2 separate regions of the Homo sapiens genome follow, and region 2 is linked to region 1. Evidence: fine-mapped QTL for protein levels in blood plasma. A gene starts in region 1. The other region holds a variant in brackets. All regions are shown on one strand. Distances are between the middles of the regions.

Region 1 (5,373 bases):
TACTGCCACATTGAGGATTAAGCTTCAACATGAGTTTTGGAGGGGACACATATTCAAACCACAGCACACTTGTTGCAAAGATTAAAGAAGGTGTAGGTGTGGAATGTATATCCTCCATTGTAAAGCCTGGCATGGAAAGAATGAGGACTCATTAACTGTTAGGTTGCTTTACCCCATCTTTTGCATCTGCAATGGCCCAGCAGAAGCAGACAGCACAGTAGTGCTCCATACAAATGATGTGGACTTAAAAGCTCTTATGTCTGAGTATTTCTAAGGCTGAACTTACTTACTTTTATCTCCTCTAAGGCAGGTCATTGTTGCCTGTTCCCCAAATGAATCAAATCAAATGTGTGACTGGCACACTTGTTTTCAGAGATATAGGAAGTAGGATAAGGGGAAGACATTTTTACATTTATTGAACATTGACTATGTGCAACATACTGTTTAACATATTTTTAAAATTTACTTCTTGTAATGATCTTATGAAGTAGGCATAATGCTGCTCAATCAATTGCTCCAGAACATAATGAATTAATGCAAAAACCACTTATTGTATCTCATAAGTCAGCTGGATAGTTCTGATGTGAGCCAGGCTTGGCTGATCTTGGTTGAGCTTACCTGGGCTTGCTCATGTGTCTGTGGTTAGCCAGCCTGTAGGCCAGTTGGTTCTGACCAGCCTAGTGTGACCTTGGCTGTCTGAAACAGCTCAGTTCTACTCCATGCAGTCTCCTACCCTTCTGCAGGTTAGCTTAGGCTTGTTCTCATGTCAGCAGCAGGGATTCAAGGCAGGAAGAAGCAACATGCATGCCACTGTCCCACTGACCAAAGCAAATCATATGGCCTAGCTCAGAGTTGGGGTGGGAGGGCACATCCAAAGGAAACAGATTCAGAGAAGCATGGACAAATGGCCATTAGTGCACTTGATCTACCACAATAGGCATTGTTATTACCCTCATTGGTAGAGGAGGAGATGGAGGCTAGCAATTTTGTGCCTGTTGGTAACTGGCCCACCCCCTAGTGTTTTTCTTTGCTGTGTTCTTTCCTGGCTATCTCTCCATGGAGATGCTTCCTAATAAGCTACATTTCCCCCTGTTTCTCATTATTTGGTCTGAATTTGAAACTTCACATAAAATTATTAGGACCAATCAGTGATCTTAACAAAGCCCAGTATAATGACATCAAAGAACAGTGCAGGTAAGTCAGTAAGATAGGTCTACTTATTAGAGAAAATGAAGGGAGGAGGGCAGATATGTAGTTGGGTGGAGCATAAATGGAAGAAAATGAGACAAATTTACATTTCTCTTCTATTTTCTGGCTTTTTTATTTTCCCTGGGTCAGCTACCACCTTTCCATGCCATCTTTTCTAGATTCTGAAACCAACATCTGACAAAGGCAAGGTCCTGGTGTCGGCCTGGGACATTTACTAGATTTTTGACCCTGAACAAGGAAGTTACCTAACTTCCCTGAGCCTCTATTTCATCATGTGTGAAATGAGAATAATAGCGCACATGTTGATTTGTGGGCTAAAGGAGACCTGAAGGTAAAGAGCCCCACATGGGTCTGAGCCCCATGCAGCCACCATGATTCACTGCTGTCCCCAAGCACATCCTGGTGCCTGAAATCCTGAAGAGTTGGCTTTCACCACTGCAGAGGCTCTGAGTGAGCTGCCAGGGCAGCAGAGGGAGGCTGAGCTGCAGGAGTGCTGTTAATGGATTTTATGGCTTTGTTGAGTACCTCAAACTACAGTTATTAATTAGAGGATGCTGTTTAGGCACTCTTGCAATATATACATTTTGTTAATTGATTTGTATAGGCTCATAGCTAGCAACATAAAGAATGTGCAGGACCATAACACTTACAAGGGATTGTAATTGCCTTTGCTGCCCTCTCTGGCTCCCCAAGCAGGGAACAAAAGCTTTGAGGATAGGACCCACTCTCTCCTCTGTCTTTGGATCTCCAACGACTAATCCAGTGCTCACTGTCAGGGTGATACAGCCTGTCTAGATGCTCAGCAAACGTCTTGAATCAATGACTAAATAAATAATATTGTTTGTTTCTGTATTTCCATATCTACTTTATTTCCAAACTATTCCTCATAAACCCTGCATTGTGTGTGATGTTGGCATTTCATTTAGGTAAATATGGTCAAGGATTTATTCTGAGTCCTTACTGTTTTTTTTTTTTTTTTTTTTGAGTACCTTTGTAATTTTTTCACGGCCTAGAGATGGTTGAGGATGCAAAGATATGCACTGGCTCCTGCACTCAGGGAACTGACAATACTCAACGGCACGAGATTTTACAATGCATGACGTCAAGTAGCCTGTTCTTAGAGATGCGGAGTGACAACATAAAGGTGGCAACTTCTTGCATGGCACCATACCGCAGGGAATTTTAAGTTTGACACCCCGCCCCCGCCACTGCAGCCTCAGCAGGCCCAGCACCCCAAGTTTTCTGATCTAGCTGTTCTATCAGCCTCTAAGAGCCGCGGCTGCCCCTGCTTCTCGGAGATGACGCGGAGCCCTGCCATTGCCATCCAGGTCCAAGGCTATCTACTCTGCCCGACAACCCCTAGCACCACTAGGCGCTGCTCTAGTGTGCGCCTGGCGCCCTCCCCAGACCAGTCGACGCAGAACGCCCAGAGACCCAGCCAAGGGCAAGACCCTTAGCGACGCCCGTCAGTCCTCTCCGCCCAGATATCAGTTCAAAGGGCATGGCAGGTCAGGGTCCCTCGCGCCACCCCAGATGACCCTCAGGCCTCGGGTGGCCACTTTCTGGGGGAGCCCTCCATCCCTTGCGGCAGCTTTTCCGAGAGTCGGAGTGGAGGCGCGGGGCTGGAGGGCTCTCCGGAGCCGCCCACCAGGGTCCTCTGGGGGCCCGGTCCCGACTGGGCAGGGGGACCTGGACAGGGCCCCGGAGCGTGGAGACGGCTGAGGAAAGTTGGGGGTCGGGGCCTTGGGGCGGGGAGCGCGGAACCCGGCGCCGATGCCCGCGTTCATGAATATGCACGAGCCACCTCCCTCCCTCCGTGACGTCACGGGCCGTCCCGGGGTGAGCGCCTGAGCCGCTCCGGGTCCGCGCCAGTGAGCGCGGCTGCTGCCGGCGAGCTAGCGGCGCAGCGGCGGGAACCCGAGGCCGAGCGCCGCGGCGGCAGCGCTAGAAGCGCACCCATCGGGCACGGCGAGGCGGCCCACGGTGCGGCAGGCACCGGGAGGCGAGAGCCGGCGCGGACAGTAGGCGGCGGCTGCAGCTCGTTGGCGGCTGCTGCGAGGATGCTGCCTGGGCGGCTGTGCTGGGTGCCGCTCCTGCTGGCGCTGGGCGTGGGGAGCGGCAGCGGCGGTGGCGGGGACAGCCGGCAGCGCCGCCTCCTCGCGGCTAAAGGTGGGTGCTGGGGAAGTTTGCTCTTCTCCCAGGAGGGAGGCAGGGCAGGCTTGAGGGTGAAAGCGGCAAGGACCTAGGCTCAAGCTGGATTTGCCCACCCTCCCTTGCCGCAGCTTCTTTGGCCTCTGTGCGCCCTGGATTCCCGAAGTCAGTTCCCTGCGCAGCGGACCAGAGAGGTCCACCCGCGGACGTCAACTCAACCCCTGGGCGGGGTCCGGGGGCTGAGCAGAAGGCGAGGTCTGGGGAGTACGGACAACTTTGAGGGCTGTCTGTGCCGGGGTGGGAGCGCAGTGGGTGAGTTTCGAGCTCTGGCCCAGGGACGGCTAGAGCAGGGCGCTGGCGCGCCGTGGGGACAAGCAGGTGTCTGCTCCTGCCTGGGGGAAGGATCAGCGGCGGTGCTTTCAAGGAGGGAGCCGAGCTGTGACTTGTCTCCCAGCTCGGGGATGGAGTGGAAACTTGTAGGCTCCAGGGAAGGCCCCGCTGACACTCCTCAAGCTCCCCCAGGGCGTCTCTGACTCCCCGGGGAACGTGTACCCTCCGGGTAGGCGGCGGGGTCCGGAAGAAGCGCGGGATGTGAGGCTCCCCGCTGCCTTTCCTACTCCGCTCTGACTACCGAGGACCGAGGAGCCTAACCTGGCACCACTCCCCTGCCCACCCTGTTCCTTTGAAGAGCTTGACCTCCCCGCGCCTCCCGCCCGGAAGGAAGCTAGATCCAAGCGAACGCCTGGCTCTGTCAGGCGAGCCTGGAAGCCGGCGAACCCCGGACTTTGACAGCTGCCTGGGAGCGTCGGGAGCTCTGGGGTGGGGGGCCGGGTCTGAAACAGGAGGTCACGTGCTTGCAGGGGGTGGGGAGGCGAGGGAAGAGCAGAGCTGGTGGGGAACAGTGGTGGGCTCAGGGGAGGCTGTGGCAGATCCTAGCTGGGGCGCACAGCTTAGTGATAACTTGTTGATTCTCTGCGCTGTTCATAAGTAGGGCTTGCGTTTGGTTTGTGGACTGTGGCCAAATCCGCCAGGTGACAATGAGGGGTACTTGGTCCCCAAATCCTGCCTGGCAATCATCAGAGGGCGGAGGGGTTTGCGCCTGTCAGAAAATAGATTCCCTGTTAGAGACAGCCTGATTCGGACGCTTGCTTTGAGCTACACTTGACCACTAGCTTAGGGGAGGAAATGCCTATCAGGCTGCATTACTCTTGGAGGTTGGGGAGAGCTGGAGGCAGGCAGTTCGCCTTGTCTGGGCTTTAGAAACTGGCCCTCCAATAACTTAGGAGTGATATATTTGAGAAGAACATGGGAGATTATGTTTATCTGTAATTTTTAAATTTTTTGGTGTCATCGTTTTGAAAATATTTTATAAGCAGGCATTCTGTTTCTTTTCAGCATTTTTTTTCTTGGTGTATCTTTGACAGGCAGTTTCTATTTTTAGAAATGAGAAATTTCATGAGAGAAAAACTCGTTATGAAAATATCTCAGAGTGCGGTAAAGAAGTGGCTGATATGAAGGGATCAAGCTGAGAGACTGTTGTTTTGGTGAAGACAAGAATAAAAAACAATGAACTTCCAAACATCTCCCCCCTGCTTTCCCAATATAGACACTTTGTTAAACAGGCAAATTACTTTTTTGGGGGGTGGGGGGGAGGAGATTTCCCATCACTTTGTAGCACAGTAATTGATATAAGCAGATGTCTGCAAACGGGAGTTTGAAGGAGGGTGAGAAGCACACAGCAAGTGCAGAACAGGGAAGAAATCATTTGGGAAGAGGATCTGGTGTGAGTAGTAATAATGCACGGCTGAGTTCTCAGGTCAGAATGGGAAGCTTCATAGAGGTAAGCGAGAAAGAGAAGGAGAGAGATAAAAAAGGAAAATAAAAACCCCAGGCTTTCAATGATTCACTTTATGTGGATAATTATGTGCATTTTAACCAACATCCGACTTAGAACATATTCATTTTTTGGTTAAAACTAGGCATTTGTCAGGTCGGGCATGGTGGCTCATGCCT
Region 2 (5,373 bases), 510 kb after region 1:
CTGAATAAAGGGAATCAATGAGGAGGGTGTCTTGGGTTTCTCCAGAGAAAAGGCCTCCAGAGACCATGACCAGAGGGGAGGTATTGTGGGAGGGCTCTCCTACACTAGCAGAAACAGGAGAACCTCAAGACTGGTGCCGCAGGGTGCACACCAAGCTCCCACTCCCAGCACAAAACTGCTTTCTCCATTTTCAATGGACAGAAAGGGAGTTTATGGAGGGTTTGGGGAGAGAGGAGAGATAGATGATTCTATATAGAGAAGGGATAGATGGTCCAGCAGGAGTGAAGATACAGGCCGGTGGGATCAGTACCAGAGAAGCTGCAAACAAGCCATGGATTCTGTCTGCAGCTCAGGAAGTGCTACCAAGGCAGCAATCAAGGTTAGATGTCTGCGGCTGCCCAGATCCACCCAGCAAATATTTCCTATCAAAAGATAGCCTGTAGGATTCTGTCACAGTTTCTACCACTAGTGAGCATCTACTCTGTGCCAGGCACTGACTAGCACGATGAGGCCTCAGAGGCACCATGAAGCTTAGAGTCTAATGCTGCAGCCTCATGTTGAAAATACTGTAGAAGCATGGAGGAGAGAGGGCATCTACCTAGACTGGAGAAATCCCGGAAGGACACATGGAGGAGGTGGCAAGAGGGATAGTGATAGGGAACCCCAAGTAGAAGAAACAACAGAAATACGGAGTGGTACAAAGCATTTTGTACCTAGGACACTACACAGCTGGCCATGTGTGTGGAGGGCTTCCTATGGCACTATGACTTTAGATACACCAGACAAAAAGCCACCTTTTGCTCCAGTGGTTTGTCCTTAAGATTGCACTTGAGGCTTTTAGAGCATGGGCTGCAGCAACTTCATGATCTCATCCTCTGGGAGGGGATGGGCTAATCCAGATACAGCTCCTAAAGACTTTGAGGAAAATAACATAGAAGTAGGGATATTCTCCTTTACAATTAGTCACTCTCATCCAAACATCCTCTTATTATAAGTACCCTAGGGATGAATCTCACATCCGTAATGTGCACCCTCTACTTGTGACACACTCAGAAAACTCCATAAAGGGCAGCTGGTGACCATGGGGGCTCAGAGCTAAACTCAGATTGCAAAGGTACCTGAAATGTATCAAAGTTGTGATGCAGGAGGGCGGATTGTCTCCTTCCTTGACAGGGAACAACATTGATCAGTCCCTACTGCATGCTATGTACACATTTTCACACTCAATCCTTACCTCAATACTATTAGGTCAGTGCTATGGTCCCCATTTCCTTGATGGGATGCCTGAGGCTTGGAGACCTTCAATAACCTGCTCAAGAACTTCCTGACCTTACAAAGCCAAGCCAAGATTGTTGCTGCATCTGCTTCACACATGCTTCCCTGAGGCTTCCCCCAATGCATTTGTCCTTGATATTCAGGCCTCAGCTCAGAGGTTAAGTCTCAAGCTAAAGGAGCCCCTCTCTATCACTGGCTTTTCCTTTCATAGCACTTACTCCTTTCTGTTAGAGCAGCACAGGCTTATTCATCACCTGCCTCTCTCCCTAGGCTCCTGACTTGTTCACTGCTGTACCCTTTGTACTCCAAGCAGAGCCTGGCACATAGAAACAAACCCTGAACAAATGGTTGCTCAGTGAACAAAGCCGTCTGGCTAGCCCCAAAGCCCAGTCTCTTCCAAGATACCGGTATCACCATGGTGGCTCCAGTGGCCCATTGGGAACTGAGTAGCCTTCTGGTAACTGCAGCCTGATACTGAGTCCCACAATGCAGGACTTTCTGAGTTTCTCATGGGTGAGGTCAGGCAACTTTATAGATTTTTATTTCTACTTCAGCAAAGGGATATCATCTAGCAATGTTCTATGTGACAAACATTTGGGATTAGTAAACTAATAGCACCCATAACTCACATTGCTTGATGAGTCAGAATCACTCTTCTGCACATAAGTCTGGCTGAGGATGGCTGCACAGCCGTCTCAGACATGTGTCCTCCCAGAGCGTGGGATGCCCGCTGTGGGAGGCAAACACATGTCGTCAGTCACTGGGAGCCTGCCTTGAGTCCGCTCTGACTTTTCAGGTGCTGCTGTTATTATATCAGTCAATTCCTGTGTACATTCACTTGTAGAGTTTGTATGTGTTGATTGCTGTGTTCTTGCATGGTGCCATTTTAATCGTGATTTTGTTCCTCTCTAATGCTTTATCATTTCCACATTATTTTTTCACTAAAACGCAGTGACAAGACCATGAGACCTACTTCAGTAACTCACAGTTCTGAGTGTCTGAGAATCCTTTCACCCTACCTTGTGACCTCATGAGATCCTTGAACAACCATGCTTCCTTTTGTTTTATAACAAGGCACATGCCTTCCTAAAAATGACCACGTGAGGCAAAGTTAAAAAATGGGGTGAGGGGCACAACACTCAAAAATGTCATCGGTGGCACATTAGAAAAAAAGGAGAAAGAGAAAACATTAGCACAATATTGCACAAGTACTACAATAAGTATGGCACCTTGCCTTGAGGAGATCTGACGTTTGCCTGTGAAATGAATGTAAGAAGGTTGCCTCCCCAGGTACTGAAATAATCTGTACAACAAGCCCCCATGACACAAATTTACCTATATAACAAACCTGCACATGTACACCTAAACCTAAAATAAAAGTTAAAACATAAATTTTGAGATACTAAAAAAAAGGTTTGGGGATGATGGGGGTTGCCTCTGGTGTGTTGTTGTGAAGTCCTTGAAGGAGTATCTGGGAAATGAATGAAAAGTTGTAACTGCAGGCGTGGACGGGTGTGGCTCATAACACATGGTGAACTAAGTGGCTGGTATATGTTTGAGGGTGTGACTGTGTGTGTGTGTGTGTGTGTGTGTGTGTGTGTGCTCATGTGAGTATGCACGTGCCTGCACATGTTTTGTGTATTCCTATGTGGCTCAGTGCAGCTGGGTGCAGTTTTCTGTGTTTGCCTAGTATTTCCCAGGGAGGAAACCCTGCATAAGCAAATGTAAAACTGCCATTATTCTCAAACTGTTCCCTAATATCTAATATATGTGTTGGGGCAAATAATTCGTTGGAACAAATTCACATTTCTAAAAGAAATGTTCCAGCAGAACTGACTGCACCTGATTCACTTTTCATCCTTTCCTTGTTTGTTTAGACTGGACCAAGAGGATTGAGTACCAGCCTGGCTCCGGGAGCATGCCCCTGTTCCCCAGCATCCACCTGGAGACGTGCGATGGAGCCGTGTCTTCCCTCCAGATCGTCACAGAGCTGCAGACTAATTACA[T/A]TGGGAAGGGTTGTGACCGGGAGACCTACTCTGAGAAATCCCTTCAAAAGTTATGTGGTAGGTTTTTCCCTTTTGGGATTTTAAAAATCAATTGCTTTTAAATGATGTATACCAAAAAAGCATATCTTATTGTCTTAGGCAAGAATCAACCCTCCCTTCCTGCACTGATATGTGTAACTCCTGGATGGATTTTAAGTTTACTTATGGCAGAAGGGTTGGAAGGCCCAGTTTTTGGCAGTAGACTCCTGACTCAGACTCCATTTATTAGTTATGTGGCCTTGGGCAAGTGACATGGAAAAGCAAAGCCTTTGCTCTTCTTTGGTAAAACGGGAATTAAATGGCACGATACTTTCAGGAGTACCTAGGTCAGGGCCCAAAGAAACACGAGTTCCTTTCTGCCCCACTGGTTTAGAAAAAGCAATCAGACCAGACCCAGTATGAAGAGTTAGTAGTGTCAGTCACCTGGAAAGGGATTGGTCTCCTCCCCAAAGCGCCAGCTATATAATTTGTGGGGCCCAGTGCAAATGAAAATTTGGGGCTCTTGTTCAAAAATTAACAAGAGTTTTACAACAGAGACAGCAAAGCATTAAACCAAGTAAACACAACTAAGCCTTGGGCCCTATATGACTACTCAGGTTGTTACTGACAAAGCTGGTCTTACCAAAGATGGAGTCTTTCCTTATTCAGTATCACAAAGCCAATACACAAAACCAAAAGTGAGTGTCAAGCAGTGCAGGCTTTATTCAATGGCCGTGGAATTGAGAAGCAGGAGATGGCTCACAATCAACTTCTCAACAAGTGAGGGTGAGGGGCTTAAGATACAGGATTTCTCTAATGAAGGAGGTGACATTAAAAGAAAAGGGAAGAATATTCATGTCTTTTCCAGAAGTGGGTGGTGAACCTCCTGGAATCAGTAGTACCGCCTCCCTTTTAGTCCTTTTACGGCTTCTTCCAGTCATTGTCATGGCAATTGTCAACTGTCGTGGTGCTGGAGGGAGTATCATTTAGCATGGAAATAAGATTATCATGAAGACTGAGGTCTTTTTGAAGTCCTTTGGTCAGCTGTCTTGGTTCTATGTACCAGTCTCAGCTGGTCTGGCTGCAAAGGGAACTTTTTATCACAGGCATTCTGTTTGTTAAAGATAAGCAAAGTTAGGACAGGGTAGAAATTCAGCTCTGTCACATAGTCACTGCCCCAGGTAACAAGGTCACATGCCCATGAAGCTGAGTCTGGCTGCCCACAGCAGAGAAGAGCTTGGGGTGAGGGTGACGGTAGACAAAGGAAGATACTCACTTGTGAGGGACAGAGAGGGCTTGTTGTCATTTGGCTGTGAGATGGCGCCACAAGAAAGGAGGCAGGCCAGGAGTTAGGAAACAAAGCTGATGGAGGGGTGCTCTGAAAGGTGGATATGGAGGAAAGCCAGCTTCACTGAGCACCTGCTCTGTGTGCCCTGCCAGCCTCTTCACATGCATTACTTTATTTAGTTATCCCATCTTCACCATGAGGAGGTCACCCATCCCATTTTAGAGGTGAAAAATTTGAGGCCCAGAGAGTGAAAATGACCTGTCTAAGGTCACACAGATAGAAAGCAACAGAGCCAGGATTTGAAAGTAAGTCTGTCTAAATGATGGGCATTTTAGCTCAGTATCCACTAAGGCTATCCATCCAGGCCTCCATCCAGGCCTCGGGAGCTAGAATGTAAATCTCTCAGTGAGTCTGTGAAATGAGAAAAAGAGCATCTCATAAGGCGAGAAGTGCCTCATGTGCTTAGTAAGTCAGACTGTTGACATGGTGATGGGCCTCCTTCACTCCTACTCCTGCACATAGTTGATTTCTTCCTTGTTCTCTCCCAAAATACTCAGGAACTCACACTGGACTCTCCAGCCATGTTTGGGAGCTTAGGAAAGGGCTTACTCTTACAGTGGGCTTGTATTTGGAGGTAACTGCATCTCCTCCAAAAGAAAAGGAGGCTGTGAATGCACAGTCTAGCCTGCCTTCCCCCAAGGTGGGCCTCTCCACTATTATCTTTGGGGCAGTTTTTCTCCCTCAACTTTCACACATACGTACACACAAGCACATACACACACATAC

Which allele goes with the higher level. Positions count from the first base shown, and alleles are read on the strand shown. Strength reflects both the effect of a copy and how common the allele is.
In carriers of allele A in region 2, the plasma level of the protein whose gene starts at base 3,080 in region 1 tends to be higher than with T alone (strong association).

Evidence for each region. PIP is the posterior inclusion probability: the model's chance that the variant is causal. The UK Biobank Pharma Proteomics Project read protein levels with antibody pairs (Olink). The fine-mapping took linkage between variants from a reference panel, not from the people measured, so its PIPs are less certain.
Region 2: its variant is fine-mapped to the plasma level of the CLSTN2 protein (UK Biobank, PIP above 0.99). The variant lies in the coding sequence of CLSTN2. If it changes the protein, the assay may bind it differently, which can mimic a change of level.

The regions. Positions count from the first base shown.
Region 1 is chr3:139,932,106-139,937,478 of GRCh38, forward strand. CLSTN2 (calsyntenin 2) reads left to right here and starts at 3,080. Exons shown (of 17, transcript NM_022131.3): 1 at 3,080-3,378. The coding sequence starts at 3,270. RefSeq lists silencers at 3,078-3,127, 3,168-3,227.
Region 2 is chr3:140,445,367-140,450,739 of GRCh38, forward strand. CLSTN2 (calsyntenin 2) reads left to right here. Exons shown (of 17, transcript NM_022131.3): 6 at 3,153-3,338. It overlaps LOC124900599 (a long non-coding RNA gene), which reads right to left. Exons shown (of 3, transcript XR_924548.3): 2 at 4,576-4,677; 3 at 4,121-4,410. Among named protein-coding and RNA genes, the nearest start is that of CLSTN2-AS1, 61 kb to the right of the region's middle. The variant T/A (reference allele first, on the strand shown) is at 3,282.